Linked DNA regions of Homo sapiens. The protein of the gene in region 1 purifies or fractionates together with the protein of each later gene. This does not show direct contact. Each region holds a gene or a part of one and is shown on either strand. Other genes may lie near its edges. The genes, in order: MST1R, POLDIP3, NT5E, TMEM67, PNPT1 and PLXNB3.

The links.
Region 2: the proteins of MST1R (region 1) and POLDIP3 purify together in Homo sapiens (affinity purification with mass spectrometry; one large-scale study listed by BioGRID and IntAct). This does not show direct contact.
Region 3: the proteins of MST1R (region 1) and NT5E fractionate together in Homo sapiens (co-fractionation; one large-scale study listed by BioGRID). This does not show direct contact.
Region 4: the proteins of MST1R (region 1) and TMEM67 fractionate together in Homo sapiens (co-fractionation; one large-scale study listed by BioGRID). This does not show direct contact.
Region 5: the proteins of MST1R (region 1) and PNPT1 fractionate together in Homo sapiens (co-fractionation; one large-scale study listed by BioGRID). This does not show direct contact.
Region 6: the proteins of MST1R (region 1) and PLXNB3 purify together in Homo sapiens (co-immunoprecipitation; one study listed by IntAct). This does not show direct contact.

The regions. Positions count from the first base shown.
Region 1 is NC_000003.12:49,890,374-49,893,873, forward strand, and holds part of MST1R (macrophage-stimulating protein receptor isoform 1 preproprotein), read right to left. Parts: intron 1,466-3,500; coding exon 1,385-1,465; intron 1,208-1,384; coding exon 1,026-1,207; intron 934-1,025; coding exon 824-933; intron 278-823; coding exon 112-277; intron 1-111. UniProt on the Homo sapiens protein: Receptor tyrosine kinase that transduces signals from the extracellular matrix into the cytoplasm by binding to MST1 ligand. Regulates many physiological processes including cell survival, migration and differentiation.
Region 2 is NC_000022.11:42,604,884-42,608,383, forward strand, and holds part of POLDIP3 (polymerase delta-interacting protein 3), read right to left. Parts: intron 1-3,500. UniProt on the Homo sapiens protein: Is involved in regulation of translation. Is preferentially associated with CBC-bound spliced mRNA-protein complexes during the pioneer round of mRNA translation. Contributes to enhanced translational efficiency of spliced over nonspliced mRNAs.
Region 3 is NC_000006.12:85,456,583-85,460,082, reverse strand, and holds part of NT5E (5'-nucleotidase isoform 1 preproprotein), read right to left. Parts: intron 1-3,500. UniProt on the Homo sapiens protein: Catalyzes the hydrolysis of nucleotide monophosphates, releasing inorganic phosphate and the corresponding nucleoside, with AMP being the preferred substrate. Shows a preference for ribonucleotide monophosphates over their equivalent deoxyribose forms.
Region 4 is NC_000008.11:93,757,894-93,761,393, forward strand, and holds part of TMEM67 (meckelin isoform 1 precursor), read left to right. Parts: intron 1-589; coding exon 590-683; intron 684-1,966; coding exon of another isoform or gene 1,967-2,100; intron 2,101-3,500. UniProt on the Homo sapiens protein: Required for ciliary structure and function. Part of the tectonic-like complex which is required for tissue-specific ciliogenesis and may regulate ciliary membrane composition.
Region 5 is NC_000002.12:55,641,845-55,645,344, forward strand, and holds part of PNPT1 (polyribonucleotide nucleotidyltransferase 1, mitochondrial precursor), read right to left. Parts: intron 2,877-3,500; coding exon 2,793-2,876; intron 1,582-2,792; coding exon 1,475-1,581; intron 1,370-1,474; coding exon 1,314-1,369; intron 1-1,313. UniProt on the Homo sapiens protein: RNA-binding protein implicated in numerous RNA metabolic processes. Catalyzes the phosphorolysis of single-stranded polyribonucleotides processively in the 3'-to-5' direction. Mitochondrial intermembrane factor with RNA-processing exoribonulease activity.
Region 6 is NC_000023.11:153,767,249-153,770,748, forward strand, and holds part of PLXNB3 (plexin-B3 isoform 1 precursor), read left to right. Parts: coding exon 1-665; intron 666-1,000; coding exon 1,001-1,180; intron 1,181-1,699; coding exon 1,700-1,828; intron 1,829-1,913; coding exon 1,914-2,014; intron 2,015-2,558; coding exon 2,559-2,691; intron 2,692-2,843; coding exon 2,844-3,000; intron 3,001-3,089; coding exon 3,090-3,198; intron 3,199-3,279; coding exon 3,280-3,394; intron 3,395-3,500. UniProt on the Homo sapiens protein: Receptor for SEMA5A that plays a role in axon guidance, invasive growth and cell migration. Stimulates neurite outgrowth and mediates Ca(2+)/Mg(2+)-dependent cell aggregation.

The DNA.
Region 1 (3,500 bases):
GTCATCTACCCTGGGGACTCCCTGGGCTCAGATCATTCAGAGCTGAATGGGTGAGGCCCAGTGTTCTTGGGTGCCAAAGCCATGTGGACTGTAGGGCAGGTGGGGCCTCACCACATCAGACTTGGTGGTAAATCTATAGGTCTGCAGGCTCTCCAGCGCCATCCACTTCACAGGTAGGCGAGCGTGGCGATGCTGTTGAACACTATAGTACTCCCTGTCCAGGATGTCGCGGGCCAAACCAAAGTCAGCCACCTTGACTGTGAATGACTCGTCCAGCCTTAGGGGTAGGGAGAGGATCACACTTAGGACTGGCCCTTACCAGGCCCTGAACCCACCTGTTCTAGGCCCTTACAGAATTTTTTTTTTTTTTGAGACGGAGTCTCGCTCTGTCACCCAGGCTGGAGTGCAGTGGCGCGATCTCCGCTCACTGCAAGCTCTGCCTCCTGGGGTCACGCCATTCTCCCGCCTCAGCCTCCTGAGTAGCTGGGACTACAGGGGCCCGCCACCACGCCTGGCTAATCTTTTTGTATTTTTAGTAGAGACGGGGTTTCACCGTGTTAGCCAGGATGGTCTCGATCTCCTGACCTCATGATCCGCCTTCCTCAGCCTCCCAAAGTGCTGGGATTACAGACGTGAGCCACCGCGCCTGGCCAAATTTCAAAGCCACAGTGTCCAGTCCAAGTCTGCACTGGGCAGACAAAAAAAGTAAGGTGCAGAGAGGGGAGGACAAGGCTGGAGTGGGCCCTTCCCTGAGGCGGCCTTGAGCACCGCACACCCTCATGCCCTGTCCTTTTGCTTCACCCCAGCTACTCTGGACTCTCACATGCAGTTCCGCGCAGCCAGGTCCCTGTGCACAAACTTCTGCTCTGCCAGGTACTCCATGCCGCGGGCTACCTGCAGGCCAAAGCTGATGAGGTCCTTCACGGTGGGGTTCTGGGGGCACAGGTGGGTTGGTGGGCAAGGGCACAGCAGCTCCTTCTCCAGCTGCTGCCCAGCCCCCAACCCAGAGCCAGATGAACACTGACCCGCTGAGGTGAGCGGATGAACTGGAGCAGGTCACCGTGGCACATATAGGGCAGCAGCACATGGGGCAGGCCCTCAGGTGGCAACATGATACCAATGAGAGCCAGCACATTCGGGTGGTTCAGGCCACGCATGAGCAGCCCCTCTCGCAGGAAGGCCTCCACCTGCTGCATCTCTGTGATGCCTGCAGAGCAGCGCAAGTCAGGCACAGGGCAGGGCGTCCCTTTATAAGGCTCAGATGGGGAAATGGGAAATGAAGGTCTCCTGCTCAGGGTCACTCAGTAAGGTGGGAACACAGAGAAAAAGAATCCTCCCAGCCTGAGGCCCCTCCCTCTGCCTTCCCATCTTCTGCCCCACTTACGACTTAGTGACTTGATGGCACATTGGATTCGATTCTGGGCCTGGTCTATGTATTCTCCGTGGTAGACAACTCCAAAGTGGCCTGGTGTGAGGTGCATAATGAGTCGATGAGAGGGGATCCAGGGCCCAAGGCTCACACCACACATTCTCATTGGCAACCAGACCTCAGAGCACTAAACTGGCCAATCTGACATTTTATTTATTTTTAATTTTTATTTATTTTTTTTGAGACCGAGTCTCACTCTTGCCCAGGCTGAAGTGCAGTGGTGCAATCTCAACTCATTGCAACCTCTGCCTCCCAGGTTCAAGTGATTCTCCTGCCTCAGCCTCCTGAGTAGCTGGGATTACAGGCAACTGCCACTACACACAGCTAATTTTTTTGTATTTTTAGTAGAGACTGGGTTTCACCATGTTGGCCAGGCTGGTCTCAAACTCCTGATCTTGTGATTCACCCACCTAGGCCTCCCAAAGTGCTGGGATTACAGGTGTGAGCCACCACACCCGGCCCAATCTGACATTTTAAAAAAGCAGCAGGGCTGCGTGCAGTGGCTCACACCTGTAATGCCAGCACTTTGAGAGGCCAAGGCGGGTGGATCACGAGGTCAGGAGTTTGAGACCAGCCTGGCTAATATGGTGAAACCCCATCTCTAGTCCCAGCTGCTTGGGAGCCTGAGGCAGGAGGATAGCTTGAACCCGGGAGGCAGAGGTTGCAGTGAGCCAAGATCGTGTCACTGCACTCCAGCCTGAGAGACAGGGCGAGACTCCATCCCCCTCAAAGAAAAGCAGCAGAAGCCAAGCGCAGTGCGCCTGTAATCCCAGTTACTCAGGAGGCTGAGGCAAGAGAATCGCATAAGCCCAGGAGTTCAAGGCCAGCCTGGGTAACATAGTGAGATGCTGTCTTTTTTTTAAATTAAAAAAAAAAAAAAAAGGCTCATGCCTTTAATCCTAATACTTTGGGATGCTGGGGCGGGAGGATCAGCTGAGGTCAGGGGTTCAAGACCAGTCTGGCCAACATGATGAAACCCCGTCTCTACTAAAACTACAAAAATTAGACAGGTGTGGTGGCAGTGGCAGGCCCCTGTAATCCCAGCTACTCAGGAGGCTGAGGCAGGAGAAATGCTTGAATCCAGGAGGCAGAGGTTGCAGTGAGCCGAGATTGCACTACTGCACTCCAGCCTGGGCAATAGAGTGAGACTCTGTCTCAAAAAAATAAAAATAAATAAATAAGTAAATAAAGCAGGGTCGGGTGCGATGGCTCACGCCTGTAATCCCAGCACTTCGGGAGGCCGAGGCGGGCGGATCACCTGAGGTCGGGAGTTTGAGACCAGCCTGGCCAACATGATGAAACTCCATTTCTACTAAAAATACAAAAATTAGACGGGCTTGGTGGTGCACGTCTGTAATCCCAGCTACTTAGGAGGCTGAGGCAGGAGAATCACTTGAATCCGGGAGGCAGAGGTTGCAGTGAGCTGAGATCATGCCACTGCACTCCAGCCTGGGTGACAGAGTGAGGTTCTGTCTCAAAAATAAATAAATAAATAAATAAATAAATAAATAAATAAATAGGCTGGATACAGTGGCTCACGCCTGTAATCCCAGCACTTTGGGAGATCAAGGCAGGCAGATCACCTGAGGTTAGGAGTTTGAGACCAGCCTGGCCAACATGGTGAAACCCCATCTCTACTAAAAATACAAAAATTAGCCAGGTGTGGTGGCGGGCGCCTGTAATCCCAGCTACTAGGGAGGGTGAGGCAGGAGAATTGCTTGAACCTGGGAGGGGGAGGTTGCAGTGAGCCAAGATTGCACCACTGCACTCCAGCCTGGGTGATAGAGCAAGACTCCATCTTGAAAAAATAAAATAGGCCGGGCGCGGTGGCTCACACCTGTAATCCCAGCACTTTGGGAGGCTGAGGCGGGTGGATCATGAGGTCAGGAGATCGAGACCATCCTGGCTAACACGGTGAAACCCCATCTCTACTAAAAATACAAAAAATTAGCCGGGCACGGTGGCAGGCGCCTGTAGTCCCAGCTACTTGGGAGGCTGAGGCAGGAGAATGGCATGAACCTGGGAGGCGGAGCTTGCAGTGAGTCGAGATCGCGCCACTGCACTCCAGCCT
Region 2 (3,500 bases), on another chromosome or scaffold:
TAGAAGGTGGTGGCCTTTGGGAAGTGATTAAGTCATGAGGACAGAGACTTCACAAATGGGATTAGTGCCCTTTATAAGGAAGAAGCCCCAGAAAGCTCCTTGGCCCCTTCCACCATGTCAGGACTCAGCAAAAAGACCATCTACAACCAGGAAGCAGGCAGGCCCTCATCAGACATGGAATCTGCCAGCATCCTGATCCTGGACTTCCCAGACTCTCTGTGACAAGGAAGTTTCTTTTCTTCAGTTTTGTTTTGTTTTGTTTGAGATGGAGTCTTGCTCTGTCATCCAGGCTGGAGTGCAGTGGCGCAATCTTGGCTCACCGCAAGCTCCGCCTCCCGGGTTCATGCCATTCTCCTGCGCCAGCCTCCCAAGTAGCTGGGACTACAGGCGCCCGCCACCACGGCCGGCTAATTTTTTGCATTTTTAGTAAAGATGGGGTTTCACCGTGTTAGCCAGGATGCTGTCGATCTCCTGACCTCGTGATCCGCCTGCCTTGGCCTCCAAAGCGTTACGATTACAGGCGTGAGCCACTGCGCCCGGCAGTTTCTGTTTTTTATAAGTTACCCAGCTTAGGGTATTTTCTTATAGTAGCCTAAACGGACTAAAACAGGCAGTGATGCATGCTATCATTTTTCTCTTTGGAGTGGCAAATTCAGATTTAAAGATTTTCCAGTGGGTTCTGGGTAGAAGGGTCATTTATACAATTAATCAGATAAGGCTTAAGGTTTACTTGGCCATTCCTGTCCTATTTTTTTAATGTGAGGACTCTGGGAGATGGAGGCACTAGAGAAAGCAGGGCCAAAGGAAGGGAGTGTTCAGGGGGTCGGCATGCACGATTAGAAAGAAATGGTTGTATGTGGTAGATGGCATCCACCCTCCCTAGGACTGGGCTACCCTAGGCTTCGTGTTCCATGGCCTACAAAGCCATAGACAAACTGGGACTATGCTTTGGGGTGACCTCAGAAACTTGCAGCTAGGCCAGGCACAGTGACTCACACCTGTAATCCCAGCACTTTGGGAGGCCGAGGCTGATGGATTACTTGAGGTGAGGTGTTCAAGACCTGCCTGGCCAACATGGTGAAACCCCGTCCCTACTAAAAATACAAAAATTAGCCAGACGTGGTGGCACGCGCCTATAATCCTAGCTACTCGGAAGGCTGAGGCAGGAGAATCAGTTGAACCCAGGAGATGGAGGTTACAGCAAGCCAAGATCACACCACTGCACTCCAGCCTGGGCGACAGAGCAAGACTCTGTTTCAAAAAAAATAAAGGACATGATCAATGAAAACTTCTGAGTATTACTCACTACAGGTTGACAATTTTTCACACAGACTTTTTTTTTTTTTTAAGAAACAAGGCTGGGCACAGTGGCTCATGCCTGTAATCTCAGCACTTTGGGAGGCCAAATGGCAGGATGGCTTGAGCCCAGGAGATCGAGAACAGCACGGGCAACATAGCGAGACTCCCTGGGCATGGTGGCTCACACCATGTAATCTCAGCACTTTGGAAAGCTGAGGCAGGAGGATGGCTTGAGCCCAGGAGTTCAGGACCAGCCTGGGCAATATAGTGAGACTCCATCTCTATAAAAATGAAAGCAGAAAATTATCTGGGCATGGCAGCATGAGTCTACTCCACAGGCTGAAGCAGGAAGACCACCTGAGCCCCAGACTGCAATGTTGCCGTGAGCCAGGATCGAGATACTGTCCTCCAGGCTGGACAACAGAGCAAGACCCTGTCTCAAAAACATATTTTAAAAAATTTAAAAGGACAGAATCTCATTCTGCTGCTCAGGATGGAGTGCAGTGATCATAGCTCACTACAGCCTTGACCTCCTGCCTCAGCCTTCTAAGTATGGAGCCACCATGCCCAGCTTTAGACGTCCTTTAAATGTTACAACCCCGTGAATCAGGTTATTGTTCACATCTTATAAATGAGGAAACTCAGAACCAAGGAGATTAACTATCCCAAGAGCTACTAAGGGGTGAGGAATGGACTTGAACTTCACTGTACCTGGTTCAAGCATCAATTAAATAAGCATGGGTCAAGAGTAAACAGCAGAGCTGGAAGAGTTAAGAAAAAAACTTCTAAAAAATAAAAAACACCAGGAGCAGTAGCTCATGCCTGTAATCCCAACACTTTGGGAGGCCAAGGCGGGCAGATCGCTTGAGCCCAGGTGTTCGAAACCAGCCTGGGCAACATGGCAAAACCCTGTCTCTACAAAAGATACAAAAAAAATTCCCTCCCCCTCCCCCTCTCCCCAGTTTCCCTCTGATGCCGAGCCGAGGCTGGACTGTACTGCCGCCATCTCGGCTCACTGCAGCCTCCCTGCCTGATTCTCCTGCCTCAGCCTGCCGAGTGCCTGGGATTGCAGGCGCGCACCGCCATGCCTGACTGGTTTTTGTATTTTTTGGTGGAGACGGGGTTTCGCTGTGTTGGCCGGGCTGGTCTCCAGCTCCCGACCGCAAGTGATCTGCCTGCCTCGGCCTCCCGAGGTGCCGGGATTGCAGACGGAGTCTCGCTCAATCAGTGCTCGTTGCCCAGGCTGGAATGCAGTGGAGTGATCTCGGCTCGCTACAACCTCCACCTCCCAGCCGCCTGCCTTGGCCTCCCAAAGTGCCGAGATTGCAGCCTCTGCCCGGCTGCCACCCCGTCTGGGAAGTGAGGAGCGTCTCTGCCTGGCCGCCCATCGTCTGGGATGTGAGGAGCCCCTCTGCCCGGCCGTCCAGTCTGGGAAGTGAGGAGCGCCTCTTCCCGGCCGCCATCCCATCTAGGAAGTGAGGAGCGTCTCGGCCCGGCCGTCCATCGTCTGAGATGTGGGGAGAGCCTCTGCCCCGCTGCCCCGTCTGGGATGTGAGGAGCGCCTCTGCCCGGCCGCGACCCCATCTGGGAACTGAGGAGTGTCTCTGCCCGACCGCCACCCCGTCTGGGAGGTGAGGAGCTTCTCTGCCCGGCCACCCCGTCTGGGAAGTGAGGAGCCCCTCCGCCCAGCAGCCGCCCCGTCTGGGAAGTGAGGAGCGTCTCCGCCCGGCAGCCGCCCCGTCTGGGAGGGAGGTGGGGGGCAGCCCCCGCACAGCCAGCCGCCCTGTTCGGGAGGTGGGGGGCGCCTCCACCCAGCCACCACCCCGTCTGGGAAGTGAGGAGCCCCTCTGCCCGGCCGCCACCCCGTCTGGGAGGTGTACCCAACAGCTCATTGAGAACGGGCCATGAAGACGATGGCGGTTTTGTCGAATAGAAAAGGGGGAAATGTGGGGAAAAGAGAGATCAGATTGTTACTGTGTCTGTGTAGAAAGAAGTAGACGTGGGAGACTTCATTTTGTTCTGTACTAAGAAAAATTCTTCTGCCTTGGGATGCTGTTAATCTATAACCTTACCCCCCCCCCCAAAAAAAAATTAGCTGCAAGTGATGATGCACATCTGTAGTCCCAGCTACTCAGAAGGCCAAGGCAGGAGGATCAACTAAGCCCAGGAGGTCCAGGCTGCAGTGAGCCAAGATCACACCA
Region 3 (3,500 bases), on another chromosome or scaffold:
TATTATTACTTCATAATTACCTGAAGTAATTTCCAAATAAGGTCATTGTATATTCCCAAAGGGAAGGTAGTTTTTGGCCTGTATAGAGAATTCATGTGAATTACAAGCCAAACTTTATACACAAGCTTTCTCTCATGCCTAACTAATTGCAAGGTATTTTTAATAATCAAAACAAGAAACTTGGATTCAGAATATCTTCATTCTTTGATCGTTGATTCATATGACCTTCTGGGTCTTATTCTTAGTGAACAGGGTTTACCCAAAGCCACTGGACTTTTATAAGCTATCCACATCAAATGTAAATATTGACAAATACCCCCAGAAGGTGTTAAAAATACCAGACTGTATCCCACAGGGTTCATTTAACAATAACAACAGGATTTTGAGTCACAGAAGAATAAAATCTCCTTTGGTTCTTCACATTTTCATTTGGTTTTGGCTTTAAACATCAGGCAAAATTCCAGGTATTTGGGTTTCAAAAATACTGGGCTGGGCTAGGCTAGGAAATGGAAACTAGAGGGATGAGGCAGTAAAAATGTTCCAAGTGATGACAAGAGGCTGAAACATGTCAGAAGGGAAACAAAGAAATGTTAGACGGTAAAACAAAGGATAGCAGAGTTTCTTTAAAAGCAGTGTAGGATGCATGATGCAGAAGAAAAGAATTTTTTTGTTCCACATAAATAAATTTTAATAATGTCAAAAAGCCATTTGTCAGAGGTTTGCAGCACATTTATTTAGCTAGTCACTTACACGCTAGCTCATTCGTTAAGGGCTGAGGTTGCAGGAAGCCCTATAATTGAAGAGCTAAAGAGACAGCCTAGGCTGGGCATGGTGGCTCATGCCTGTAATCCCAGCATTTTGGGAGGCAAGAAGGGATGATTGCTTGAGCCCAGGAGTTTGAGACCAGCCTAGGCAACATTGGGAGACTCTCTCTCTCTCTGTCTCTCTTTTTTAAAGAGAGACAGCCTGATTTACTATATGACGGGGCTCAGTTGCCAATCACTCAACATCATCCAGGGAGGATTACAAATTACATTTGTTTTGGTTGATAGGTTTCTGGCATTGTTGCCCACTTCTGATGTTGGGTTGGCTTCCATCCCTGCAGTCCTGGGCCAAGGAATGTTGGCCACAGCAGGTGAATGTGGCATCACACTGAATAGCAGGAAACACCCTGGGGTTCAACCCAGCTGCAACTGGGTTTGGTTGTTGAAAGAATGTATGAATGAGCAAGTACCAAATAGACAGCATTCTACTTGTTTGGGGAGGGGGGACGTACAAACTCTCCATACGTGCAAAATAGGCACATCAACATTCAGAATTAACTGCCCAACTAATTGAGGTCCAGGAAGGTTCAACTATATCTCTGAGGGGCTAGAGGGCTCCAGCTAATATTTGGATTATATATAGAACTAATTATTCAAGTGAGGGAAAAGAAGTGTCAAAAGAATGTTCAAATTCCGATTATGTGGCTGAGGAAAATAAACACTGGAGAGTACAGAGCATTCAGATGTATTTGTGAGTGATGTGCAGAAAGCCGCCAATATGATGTTGATTTGTTTGGTTCTCTCCAATTTTCAGTTAAGAAAACAACAGATGCTATTAATAGTACGAGGACAAGATGAGCTGAGAAACTACCTTTACTTCCTCCCTCCCCTGCCTGAAGCTGGTCATCCAGCACCTCTCTGCTCTGGAATTTAGACTGAAAAAGAGGAAGCAGAGGCCTGAGGCCACAGCCCCAGGATGGGAGTGGTGCTGTTCCTGTCTCTGAGGTTGGGGATCCACAACCCCCTAGACATTCACAACTTCTGACACCTGAGCTTTAGGAATAATTACTTTTTTGGTTGTTGTTGCCTTTTTAAAAGTGTCATTGCAAACAGAATCTCTCTTTCAAGCTTCCCAAACTAGTATTGCTAATTTTTCTTTCCTCAAGAAAGGCTTCATGACTGAAGATAAAGTAATTGTGACAGTTTCCTTTAACATAAGAGTCCTTGTAAGCACTTGTCTCTCTTCTTAGGGACAAGTTTTTATGGGAGAAGAAACATGCTTACTGCTGATTTCGGCTTAGATGCTAAATATGAGGGTCTGATGTGTCTTCTTCTACAGACCAGATCTTTAGCTCAAGAATCCCCATGCATGGGTGTTAGAATTTCAGTCACTTTTGCTTTGCTGTTTAACCTCTCTCCTTTATAGATCTTACCCAGTCCCTCTGTGTAGTTAAGAGGAACTCGAATGGCCATTATCCACTCTGCTATCTTCTGAAGAGTAATTTTCACCCTAGCAGGTCCTGATCGCTATCCTCAGCACTTAGCAGAGAGCCTGGCATGTAGTAATGCTGAATGAAGATTTGCAGATTGAATGAATAAATGAGCCCCAAAGACTCAGGCTCAAAACTGGGCTCATACTCTTCCCATTCCCCAGGCCATCATTTCTGTTACTACCAGAGTAACATCCCGCGAGCATCCTGGAAACCTCTTCACCTGCAAACAGTGGCCAAATGGAAGCACCTGAAAGACCTACGCTATCTCTCCACAAGGAAATAGCTGCCAAAAAATAAATAAATAACTGTGAAGGAGAAATTAGAGAGTTGTCATGCAAACTTAGACTTGTCCAGAGACAAACCAAGTGATGTAGGCAGATTAGAAGCAAGAGAGAGGGGTGGGGAGGAGCTGAGGTGCTGAGAAGTAACATGCAGTAGACCACCCTCTCCAATTCCCCCATTTTATAGATAAGGAAACCACTGCCAAATTCACACAGCTAGTAAGTGGAAGAGCCAAGAAGTAAAATCTGGGTGTTCTGACGTCCCATCCAAATCTCTTTCCACTGCTCCTGTCTGCCACAGCCCTGTACAGTCCAATGGTGCCCAGTAAGTCCAGGAAAAGTCTTCAGACTGCATTTCAGGGCTTGAGGTAGCAGGCCTCAGCTGTCAGCGGTAAGCGGAAGTAGAAGAATCCAGCCTCTGTGTGGAAGCATTAAAACCTGCTGACTCTCCCATTGCCTGGTGCTTGAACCCTCATAATCATCTTTTGATTACACCCTCTCCTGAGCCACCCCTGCAAAGAGAAGGCAAGTACAGCCGGCACTTACTAGGGGCTGGCCCTGTGCTAAGCACATTATGTGCACTACTATCTCTTGTAAACCCCACAGCACCCTAGGGGTGGAGACAACAATCACATACCTCACACATGTGGAAATGGAGGTTTCATGAGATTAAATAACCTGCTCCCAGTCCACAGATTCTAAGTGGTAGGAAGGGGACTTGATCCCAGTCTCACCCCCACGTTTACTCCCTTAGCCCTATACCTACCAGACAGAATGCCTTTTGCAGCTGGTTCCCGTGGATTTGGTCTCCTCAATTACCAGAGTTCAGGTGTTATCATCTCACACTTGGACTGCTGCCTGGCCTCTTTCCTCACCCTCTTCTCTCTTGTCTTCTCCCTCCCACCCTTTTCTGCTCATCTTCCAAAACCGTGATTTCCCTATGTAGCTGGGAGGGTTTTTCC
Region 4 (3,500 bases), on another chromosome or scaffold:
TTATAGGCATACACCACCACGCCCAGCTAATTTTTGTATTTTTAGTAGAGACGAGGTTTCACCACATTGGCCAGGCTGGCCTCAAGCTTTGGCCTCAAGTGATCCACCCACCTTGGCCTCCCAAAGTGCTGGAATTACAGACGTGAGCCACTGTGCCTGGACTAAATTTTTTAGGTATTTGAATTTTTAAAAATTAGAATAGAGTTTTAGAACAGGTAAGATTAACCTATTAACTGACCGTTGATTCAATCTTTTTGTGTTGTGTTGTGTTTTATATTTGTAAATGGAAAAACGAAATGACAAATAATTATGAAAGAGGCATCCATTTGAATTAAAGATCCTGAAGAAGAGAGAACTATTATCCGGAGTTAATCCTTTAATAGTTTTCAGGACATAGTGATAATATAGAGCTTCATTTTGGAATATAAGCATGAATTATCTCTCCAGGGAATTTTTATGTGGCTCATATATGTATGATTTATTTGAATATTCACTGTAGTTACATACTCTTATGGCATTTTGAACTTACATGATTAGAAGAAGAAAGTTAATTAAAAAAGAGAAAAGCATTTTTTTTCTTTTAATTTAGAAAGGTGTTACAGAAGATGGCTGGAACTGCATTTCTTGCCCTAGTGACTTAACTGCCGAAGGAAAATGTCACTGTCCCATTGGCCATATTTTAGGTAAGAATTAGATTCCTTATAAAGAAGTAGTGATAAATCTTCATTCTTGTTTTTGTTTTTATTTGAAAAGGGCACTAATTTAAATAGTTAAGTGATTACTTAATATTTTTGCAGTGGCTCAAGCAATTCTCCTGCCTCAGCTTCCTGAGTAGCTGGGACTGCACACATAACACCACTGCAGCTGGCTAATTTTTAAATTTTTTGTAGAGACTGGGTCTCGTTATGTTGCTCAGCCTGGTCTTGAACTCCTGGCCTCGAGAGATCTTCCTGCCTCAGCCTCCTAAAGTGCTGGGATTATAGGCATCAGTCACTGTGTCCAGCCCTTAATAGTGTTTATAAAAATTATTTTTGTACAAATTAATGATACTTAAAACATCAGCAGGCATTGAGAAGAAAATACAAAGTTTTGTCTGAGTTTTTTAAAACTCTTAATATTGTAGGATTAGATGGTTATTTCCTTAACATAACATGACAAAATATGTCTCAACTCAAAAGCCAACTTGATACTTAATAGGGAAAAAGCGTAAGCATTCCTGTTAATGTCAGGACCTGGAAAAGGATGCAAACTATGCACTTAAGTAAGAGAAAAAAAATATTTATCATTGGAAAAGAAAAGGTAGGCCGTTGTTAATCCTAGCACTTTGGAAGGCTAAGGCAGGTGTATTGCTTGAGCTCAAGAGTTTGAGACCAGTCTGGGCAACATGGTGAAACCGCATCTCTACAAATAAAAAAAAAAATTATTTGGTTACGGTGGCATGCACCTGTAGTCCCAGCTACTCGAGAGGCAAAGGTGGGAAGATCGCTTGAGCCTGGAAGGTCAAGGCTACAGTGAGCTGAGATGGCGCCACTGCACTCCAGCCTGAGCGACAGGGTAAGACCCTGTCTCATGAAAAAAAAAAAAAAAAAAAGTAAAATATCATTGTTTACAGATGATTTGATTGTATGTTTAAAACACCCAACAGAATGACTAAAAATTATTATAAACAGTGATGGAAGAAAATACCTCATATACAGTAGCAACAAAAAAGAAAAAATAAGTAGGCATATCCTTTTTTTTAATTTTAATTTTTATTTTTGTTTTTTTTTTTTTGAGACAGAGTTTTCACTGTTGTTGCCCAGGCTAGAGTGCAATGGTGTGATCTTGGCTCACTGCAACCTCCCTCTCAGGTTCAAGCGATTCTCCTGCCTCAGCCTCCCGAGTAGTTGGGATTATAGGCATGTGCCACCACACCTGGCTAATTTTATATTTTTAGTGGCTAACAGGGTTTCTCCATGTTGGTCAGGCTGGTCTTGAACTTCCGACCTCAGGTGATCTGCCTGCCTCAGCCTCCCAAAGTGCTGGGATACAGGCTTGAGCCACCGCACCTGACCTTGGCATGTACTTTAGAAGGAATGTACAACATAATTGAAGAAATTTGTGAGTATTACTGAGGGATATGAAGGCAGGCTTTTAAGTGAAAATGCATTCTTTATTTTTGGATGGGAAGATTAAATATTAGAAAGATGCAACTCTTCTACCAGTCTGTATATTTTAAAGGACCCTAATAAATTCTATCAGGATATTATTTGTTTGTTTTGGGGTAATATACAAATAGAGTCTGAAGTTTAACAGGAAAGTTATATGAAAAGCTAAGAAAATTCTGGGAAGGGAAAGAAGGAACTACCCCATCAGATAATATGCATGTTATATAGCTACTATAATCACATATATGACAGGCTTATGGATACACAGACTGATTGATGGAACTTAAAACAGGCAATCAGAATAGATTCAATTCATATAGGAATTTGGTATGTGAAAAAAGTGGCATTTCATATAAGTGGGGATAAAACTGATTAATGATGCTGGGAAAACTGAGAAAACACCCAGGTTGGGTTTCTACCTTATTTCTGAGAAAATTAAACTCCAAATGAGTCAAATACTAAATATGAATATATGAAAGTTCTTAAAGAAAATGCAGGAAAAATTTGTATAGTTTTGGTTTAACAGGCCTAAGTATGACCAAAAATACTCAGTCACTTTGGAGGCCTAGGTGGGACGATTACTTGAGCCATGGAGTTCCTGACCAGCCTGGGCAATATAGAGAGACTCTGTGTCTACAAAAAAAAAAGAAAAAAAGAAAAACCACAGAAGAAAAAATTGGTAAATTTATAAAATGCCATAAAAATTATAATACCAAAAACCAAACTACAAACTAAAGAAAAATATTAATGCATACAATAGACAGAGGTCGAAGTTCTTCAATAAATGTAAAGCTCCTACAGATAAATAAAAGTAAGATGAATAACCCAATTTTTAAAATAGCCAAGAGTCATAAATAAAGTTCACATAGAAAAAAATATTTTAACGTGAGAAAAAAATGTTCAACTTTACTCAGAGTAAGAAAATGTACGTTAAAGCTAAAATGAGATTTTATTTTTAACCTACCAGATTTTATTATAAAATTTTTTCGACCGGGCACAGTGGCTCACGCTTGTAATCCAGCACTTTGGGAGGCCGAGGCAGGTGGATCACCTGAGTTCAGGAGTTCAAGACCAGCCTGACGAATGTAGTCGCTATTAAAAACTCAAAATTAGCCTGGCATGGTGGCACATGCCTGTAATCCCAGTTTCTTGGAGGCTGAGGCAGGAGAATTGCTTGAACCCAAGGAGGTGGAGGTTACAGTGAGCCAAGATCACGCCATTGCACTCCAGCCTGGGCAACAAGAGTGAAACTCCATCTCAAAATAAAAAAGAAACTTTTTCAACTTTGACAATGTATTTATAAGGATACAGGGAAATAGTTATTCGTGTATTAATGGGAAAAATTTTAAGTTG
Region 5 (3,500 bases), on another chromosome or scaffold:
GCTTTTTTTTTTTTTGAGATGGAGTCTCGCTCTGTCGCCCAGGCTGGAGTGCAGTGGTGCGATCTCATCTCACTGCAACCTCTGCCTCCCGGCTTCAAGCGATTCTCCTGCCTCAGCCTCCTGAGTAGCTGGGATTACAGGCATGCACCACCATGCCTGGCTAACTTTTGTATTTTTAGTAGACATGGGGTTTCACCATGTTGGTCAGGCTGCTCTCGAACCCCCCACTTCCTGATCCACCTGCCTTGGCCTCCCAAAGAGCTGGGATTACAGGCGTGAGCCACCATGCACAGCCGAAATTGGATTTAAAAATATGTGCCAATTAAGCATTCAGATATGTTTAAAATAAGCCATCAAAAGAAAAAAAAAGAAATAAAGAAATATTGCTAAGTCTATTTTGGGCCTATTTAATATTTACTGGGAAAATTAATTTGGGGTTTCACCAATTACTAGTAGAAAATTTGGTTAAAGAATTCAGTTGGCCGGGCGCGGTGGCTCAAGCCTGTAATCCCAGTACTTTGGGAGGCCGAGGGGGGCGGATCACAAGGTCAGGAGATCGAGACCATCCTGGCTAACAAGGTAAAACCCCGTCTCTACTAAAAATACAAAAAATAATTAGCTAGGCGTGGTGGCGGGCACCTGCAGTCCCAGCTACCGGGGAGGATGAGGCAGAATGGCGTGAACCCGGGAGGCAGAGCTTGCAGTGAGCTGAGATCGCACCACTGCACTCCAGCCTGGGTGACAGAGCGAGACTCTGTCCCAAAAAAAAAAAAAAAAAAAAAAAAGAATTCAGTTAAGAGAACCTATCATAATTAGAACCACAGAACTGCTACTTTAATTTTATAAAATGATATAGAAAACAAAATATACTATACCTTAAAAAATAATGATTATATGGCAATTGGCATGTAATCTAAACACCTTATGATTTCAAAGTAAATGTAAAATTAAATTGGGATTATAATAGGAATCTGTTAAAAACCAAAACAGGGCTGGGCACGGTGGCTCATGCCTGTAATCCTGGCACTTTGGGAGGCTGAGGCAGGAGGATGGCTTGAGGCCAGGAGTTTAAGACCAACCTGGGCAACATAGTGAGACCATGTCTTTACAAAAAAATTAAAAAATCAGCCACGTGTGGTGGTGTGTGCTTGTAGTCCTAAATAGGAGGCTGAGGTGGGAGAACTGCCTGATCCCAGGAGTTCAAGGCAGCTGTGAGGTACAATGGCACCACTGTATCCCACTGTGGGTGGCAGGGTGAGACCCTGTCTCTAAAGAAAGGAAAATGCTCAGCATAGTATATTACTTGATATTACCTGATTTCAGTTATTGTGGCGGTATATACTGCTCCAAATTCTAATTGCTGCTCCTGCTGTAAGTGCAAAATAAGCCATAAGATTCATAAAGAAAACATCAACAAAAAGTAGAAAAAACAAATATAGCTATATGATACGTAATTAATATGATCTATACTTACATCATCCTTGCAGATTTCAGTAATGAAGTCTCTTGCCTCATGCATAGCACTGGGTGTTGGTGCAAATACAGAAAACGTTTCTTCATCCACCTGACTAATAGTTACACCTTTTAAAAACAAAATGTAACATATTAAAGTTAACTTGGCTGGGCATAGTGGGTCACATCTGTAATCCCAGCACTCTGGGGGGCTGAGGTGGGAGGATCACTTGAGCTCAGGAGTTCAAGGCCAGCCTGGGCAACATAGGGAGAGCCTGTTACTACAAAAAATAAATTCAAAAATTAGCTGGACCTGGTAGCATGTGCCCACCTACTTGGGACTCACAGTCGGGAGGATCACTTGATCCCAGGGGTCAAGGCTGGAGTTAGCTGTGATTGTGTACTGCACTCCAGTCTGGGTGACAGAGCAAGGCCCCATCTCAAAAAAAAAAAAAGTTAACTTGCTCATTCCAGTGGAAACTCGTCTTAAAAATAGATGTGAGAATAGGAGGGACCTATTAGTAGCTGGGTGGAGTTATGCTGTATTTAATCATTACTTTAGGAATGAAGGAATTCATTCATCAACAAATACACTCTGCATACTTGCTAGGTACCTGGCATTATACTAGGTAGGCCCTGGGGATACAATGGTGAGCCAATATGCTTGATTTCTTGAAATTCACCATCTAGTGAAATCAAATATATCTATACAAATTTTGGAGAGTCTGGTTCTGCTCTCTTAATTACGAGTAGAAACTATAATAGAACCCTTTCCTTACTTTTTTTCTTTCTCCCGCTTACTCTTACGAGGGGTGAATAAATGAATAAGGGACAAAATCACATCAGTTTCTCAGTGTTAGCAAATGGCTAAGGTGACAGTGCTTCTCACTCTCTTGCAGTAACCTCAAACCTTGAAGTACGAGGTAATTCAAACATTGCTTCAGGAAAAATAAATTAAAGCTTTTTTTTATATACTCTTTAAATAAAAGAGTTAAAATAAAACTAAGTGAAAGTAGCAGAATAAAAAGAAATAACTAAGTAATAATTCCTCTAAAGTTAAAAACTAAAAATTATTCTAGATGTTCAACTATAAAATGTTGCAAAAAAGTCCTGATGAATTCTTTGTAATCCTTCTTGAATTTAGTTAAGAATGACCATTTGCTAATTTATTAATAGGCACACAGAAAACTCACAGTCAAGACACGTCATATCCTTTTCTCCTGGTCTTTCTCTCATTTCTCAAATAAATATATATTTAAAGCAACATACTAGAGATGAAATAGCAAACTTTTATGGTCTAGCATTTAATTAAAAAACCCCAAACTTCATACAACTCTTACCTGTTTCAGCCTGAAGTTTTTTTAAGTTATAGCCACCAGGTCCAACAAATTTTGCTCGTTTTGATAATGGAACCTGAACAGTTTCTGGAACGTAATACAGACAAATATATAAACAATTCAACTACATACATGAACCTAAAACATGCCATGGTCACTTGAGATTTTTTTTTTTTTTGACCTAGACACATGTAAAAATATTTTACTATAAAACAGAAAAGTAGATGATTAAAATTACTGAAAACTGTTAAAGAATATTCCCTAAAATTTAAAGCATTTTAACTACAAAAGTATTTAAAATATTTTCGTTTTGTGCACTGGGTAAAAACAATTTAAAAGCAGTAATATTCATTCATATATTAATGTTTATCTTACCATGATCACTAAAATTTTTTTTTTTTTTTTTTTGAGACGGAGTCTCACTTTGTCGCCCAGGCTGGAGTGCAGTGGCGCGATCTCGGCTCACTGCAAGCTCCGCCTCCCGGGTTCATGCCATTCTCCTGCCTCAGCCTCCCGAGTAGCTGGGACTACAGGCGCCCGCCACCACGCCCGGCTAATTTTTTGTATTTTTTAGTAGAGACAGGGTTTCACCGTGTTAGCCAGGATGGTCTCGATCTCCTGACCTTGTGATCCGCTCGCCTCGGCCTCCCAAAGTGCTGGGATTACAGGCGTGAGCCACCGCGCCCAGCCGATCACTAAAATTTTAATGTA
Region 6 (3,500 bases), on another chromosome or scaffold:
AGACACGGCGCCTTGGGGATGTGGCCGAGGTGCTGTACCAGGCTGAGGACCCTGGTGACGGGCAGTTTGTGGCTGCCAATACCCCGGGAGTGGCAACGGTGGGGCTGGTGGTGCCCTTGCCCGGCCGGGACCTCCTGCTTGTGGCCAGAGGCCTGGCGGGCAAGCTGTCGGCAGGGGTGCCACCCCTGGCCATCCGCCAGCTGGCCGGGTCTCAGCCCTTCTCCAGCGAGGGCCTGGGCCGCCTGGTGGTGGGCGACTTCTCCGACTACAACAACAGCTACGTCGGGGCCTTTGCCGACGCCCGCTCCGCCTACTTCGTGTTCCGCCGCCGCGGGGCCCGGGCCCAGGCTGAGTACCGCTCCTACGTGGCCCGCGTCTGCCTGGGGGACACCAACCTGTACTCCTACGTGGAGGTCCCCCTCGCCTGCCAGGGCCAGGGCCTCATCCAGGCCGCCTTCCTTGCCCCGGGCACCTTGCTAGGGGTGTTTGCCGCGGGCCCAAGGGGCACCCAGGCGGCGCTCTGTGCCTTCCCCATGGTGGAGCTGGGTGCCAGCATGGAGCAGGCCCGGAGACTCTGCTACACGGCGGGCGGCCGGGGCCCCAGCGGCGCAGAGGAAGCCACCGTGGAGTACGGCGTCACGTCGCGCTGCGTCACCCTGCCCCTTGTGAGTGGCATGCCCTTCCATCCCCCCTCTCTGTGGATGGCTGGCATCTTTCAGCACTGGACAGGGGTGCCTGCCCATGGGAAGTGCCAGCCAACCTCTCAGCCAGGGGTCAGCTGAGTCTCCAGGTCTCCTGCCTGCTCTCCACCCATTTCTTTCCACCTTTCTCCCTCTGGATGCTATGAGCTTGCCAGGTGCCCTGGCCCTTCGGCCCTGATTGCTGGGCCTTGGGGTCATCCCAGGGTGCCTGGCTCTCCTCCCGCTGGCAGCCTGGGTACCCCCCCTGACTGCCTCTCTGCTCTCTTCCGGGGGCTGATTCTCCACTTCCTGCCACGTAGGATTCCCCCGAGTCGTACCCCTGTGGCGACGAGCACACCCCCAGCCCCATTGCTGGCCGCCAGCCCCTGGAGGTCCAGCCTCTGCTGAAGCTCGGGCAGCCGGTCAGCGCCGTGGCAGCTCTCCAGGCAGATGGGCACATGATAGCCTTCCTGGGGGACACCCAGGGCCAGCTGTACAAGGTGAGGGCCCGGCCTTGCTGTCCGGCTGGGTGTGCCCCTGGCCACGGAGGCTCAGGAAAGCCCCCAGCAACTTCCACCTCTTAGCCCGCATCCCACGGTTGGGTCAGGGGACTTTGCCACACAGTGACTGCTGGCTGAGCACTGCCCCCTGCAGCCCGGCCTTCACCAGCTGGTGGTGGCTCACGGTGAAGGTGGCTGGGGTGGCTGGGTGAGGTGGGCAGGGTGTGGTGCCTCCTGGTGACCTTCCTGTCTCCCCATAGCTGCCCTCCCACCTGGCAGAACTGTCCCTGGTACACGGGGCCTCACCCAGGGTGCCGCTGCTGCCCCGGTGTCATGGTTCCCTGGAGAGTGTCCTAGGCCTGAGGGTGCTGAGTGGGGGAAGTGATGTGTCCTCCCTCGATGGCCCGGCAGGAAGGGGAACTGGCTCTAAAAAGGAGCCCCCACTAGGAGGAGGGCGTGTCCCTGGAACAGGCAACCTTTGGCCATCTGGCCCAGCCTCGTCCTTGTCCCCCCACTCAGGTCTTTCTCCACGGCTCCCAGGGCCAGGTTTACCACTCCCAGCAAGTGGGGCCTCCAGGCTCAGCCATCAGCCCAGACCTGCTGCTGGACAGCAGTGGCAGTCACCTCTATGTCCTGACTGCCCACCAGGTGAGGGCCATCCTGGGGCTGAAGGGGCCAGCACACGCGGCCCAAGTCTCGTGCCCATTGCCTCTCTGCTCTGCTGCCCCTCCAGGTGGACCGGATACCTGTGGCAGCCTGCCCCCAGTTCCCTGACTGTGCCAGCTGCCTCCAGGCCCAGGACCCGCTGTGTGGCTGGTGTGTCCTCCAGGGCAGGTGAGCACGGGGCCTGTGCCTAGGCTAGGGCCAACGGGTGGTGTGTGCCACGAGGCTGCCCCTGGAAGTAGCCCTAGGCGTGCCGGGAGGCCAACCCTGCCTGTTGGAGAGACTCAGGGCCACCACGGAGGTCACCCATCCTGCCCCATCTCACTGAGCCGTCAATCTGGTTGGCACCCCCCTTTTCCGACACCACCCGGCCTGTGGACTCCTCATCCCAGCAGCCCCAGCCAGGGTCCAGAACCCCACACAGCTGTCCTCCAGCCGGTGCTCCACACGGCAGCCCCTGGAATCCTTTAAGGCAGCCCTGAGTCACTGTGCGTCCCTCAGCCCAGCCGCACCTGCCTCTCAGGGCTGGAGCCCACGCCTTGGCCATGAGGCCCTGCCTGCTTGGCCCCTTTCTCTCTGGACACAGTCCCCTTCACGCCTCCTGCTCATTGCACCCCACTGCACTCCAGCTGGGCCGGCCTCCCCAGGCCCCTGTTGCCGGTCATCCTTGGAGTCTAGGACCCCCACGGTGACCTGATGGACCCCTGCCTGGCAGGTGTACCCGGAAGGGCCAGTGCGGGCGGGCAGGCCAGCTGAACCAGTGGCTGTGGAGTTATGAGGAGGACAGCCACTGCCTGCACATCCAGAGCCTGCTGCCGGGCCACCACCCCCGCCAGGAGCAGGGCCAGGTAAGCCGCCCACCACCACTGGGCCCTCTGGGCAGCATGACCACTGCCTGGAGCATGAACCCCGCCTGCCTCCCGTCCTCCTTCCTCTCCCATGGCCTCTGCTGCCCCCTCTCTCTGGCTACATCTCCCGGTTTCTCCCCGCTGCATCCCAGGTCACTTTGTCTGTCCCCCGGCTGCCCATCCTGGATGCAGATGAATACTTCCATTGTGCGTTCGGGGACTATGACAGCTTGGCTCATGTGGAAGGGCCCCACGTGGCCTGTGTCACCCCTCCCCAAGACCAGGTGCCACTTAACCCTCCAGGCACAGGTGAGTGGCCCATGGGGTAGGGGGCTGGGATGGAGGCTGGAGGGGTAATGAGCCACCTGACCTGTCCTGCCCCCACTGTCCCCTCCCAGACCACGTCACTGTGCCCCTGGCCCTGATGTTCGAGGACGTGACTGTGGCTGCCACCAACTTCTCCTTTTATGACTGCAGTGCCGTCCAGGCCTTGGAGGCGGCTGCCCCGTGAGTCCCTGGGCCTGCCTCCTGGGGTAGGGGTGGCGACCCCAGAGGGCACTCAGTTGAGCAGCCACCCTGCCCCTCTAGGTGTCGCGCTTGCGTGGGCAGCATCTGGCGGTGTCACTGGTGCCCGCAGAGTAGCCACTGCGTGTACGGAGAGCACTGCCCAGAGGGCGAGAGGACCATCTACAGCGCCCAGGAGGTGGGTGGGCCCGAACTTCGGGCAGAGACAGGGCTGTCCCTTCTCCACCCTTCCCAGACCCGCCCAGCAGTAGGCCCTTTGAGTTCTGAAGGGCTGAGGGCTCTTG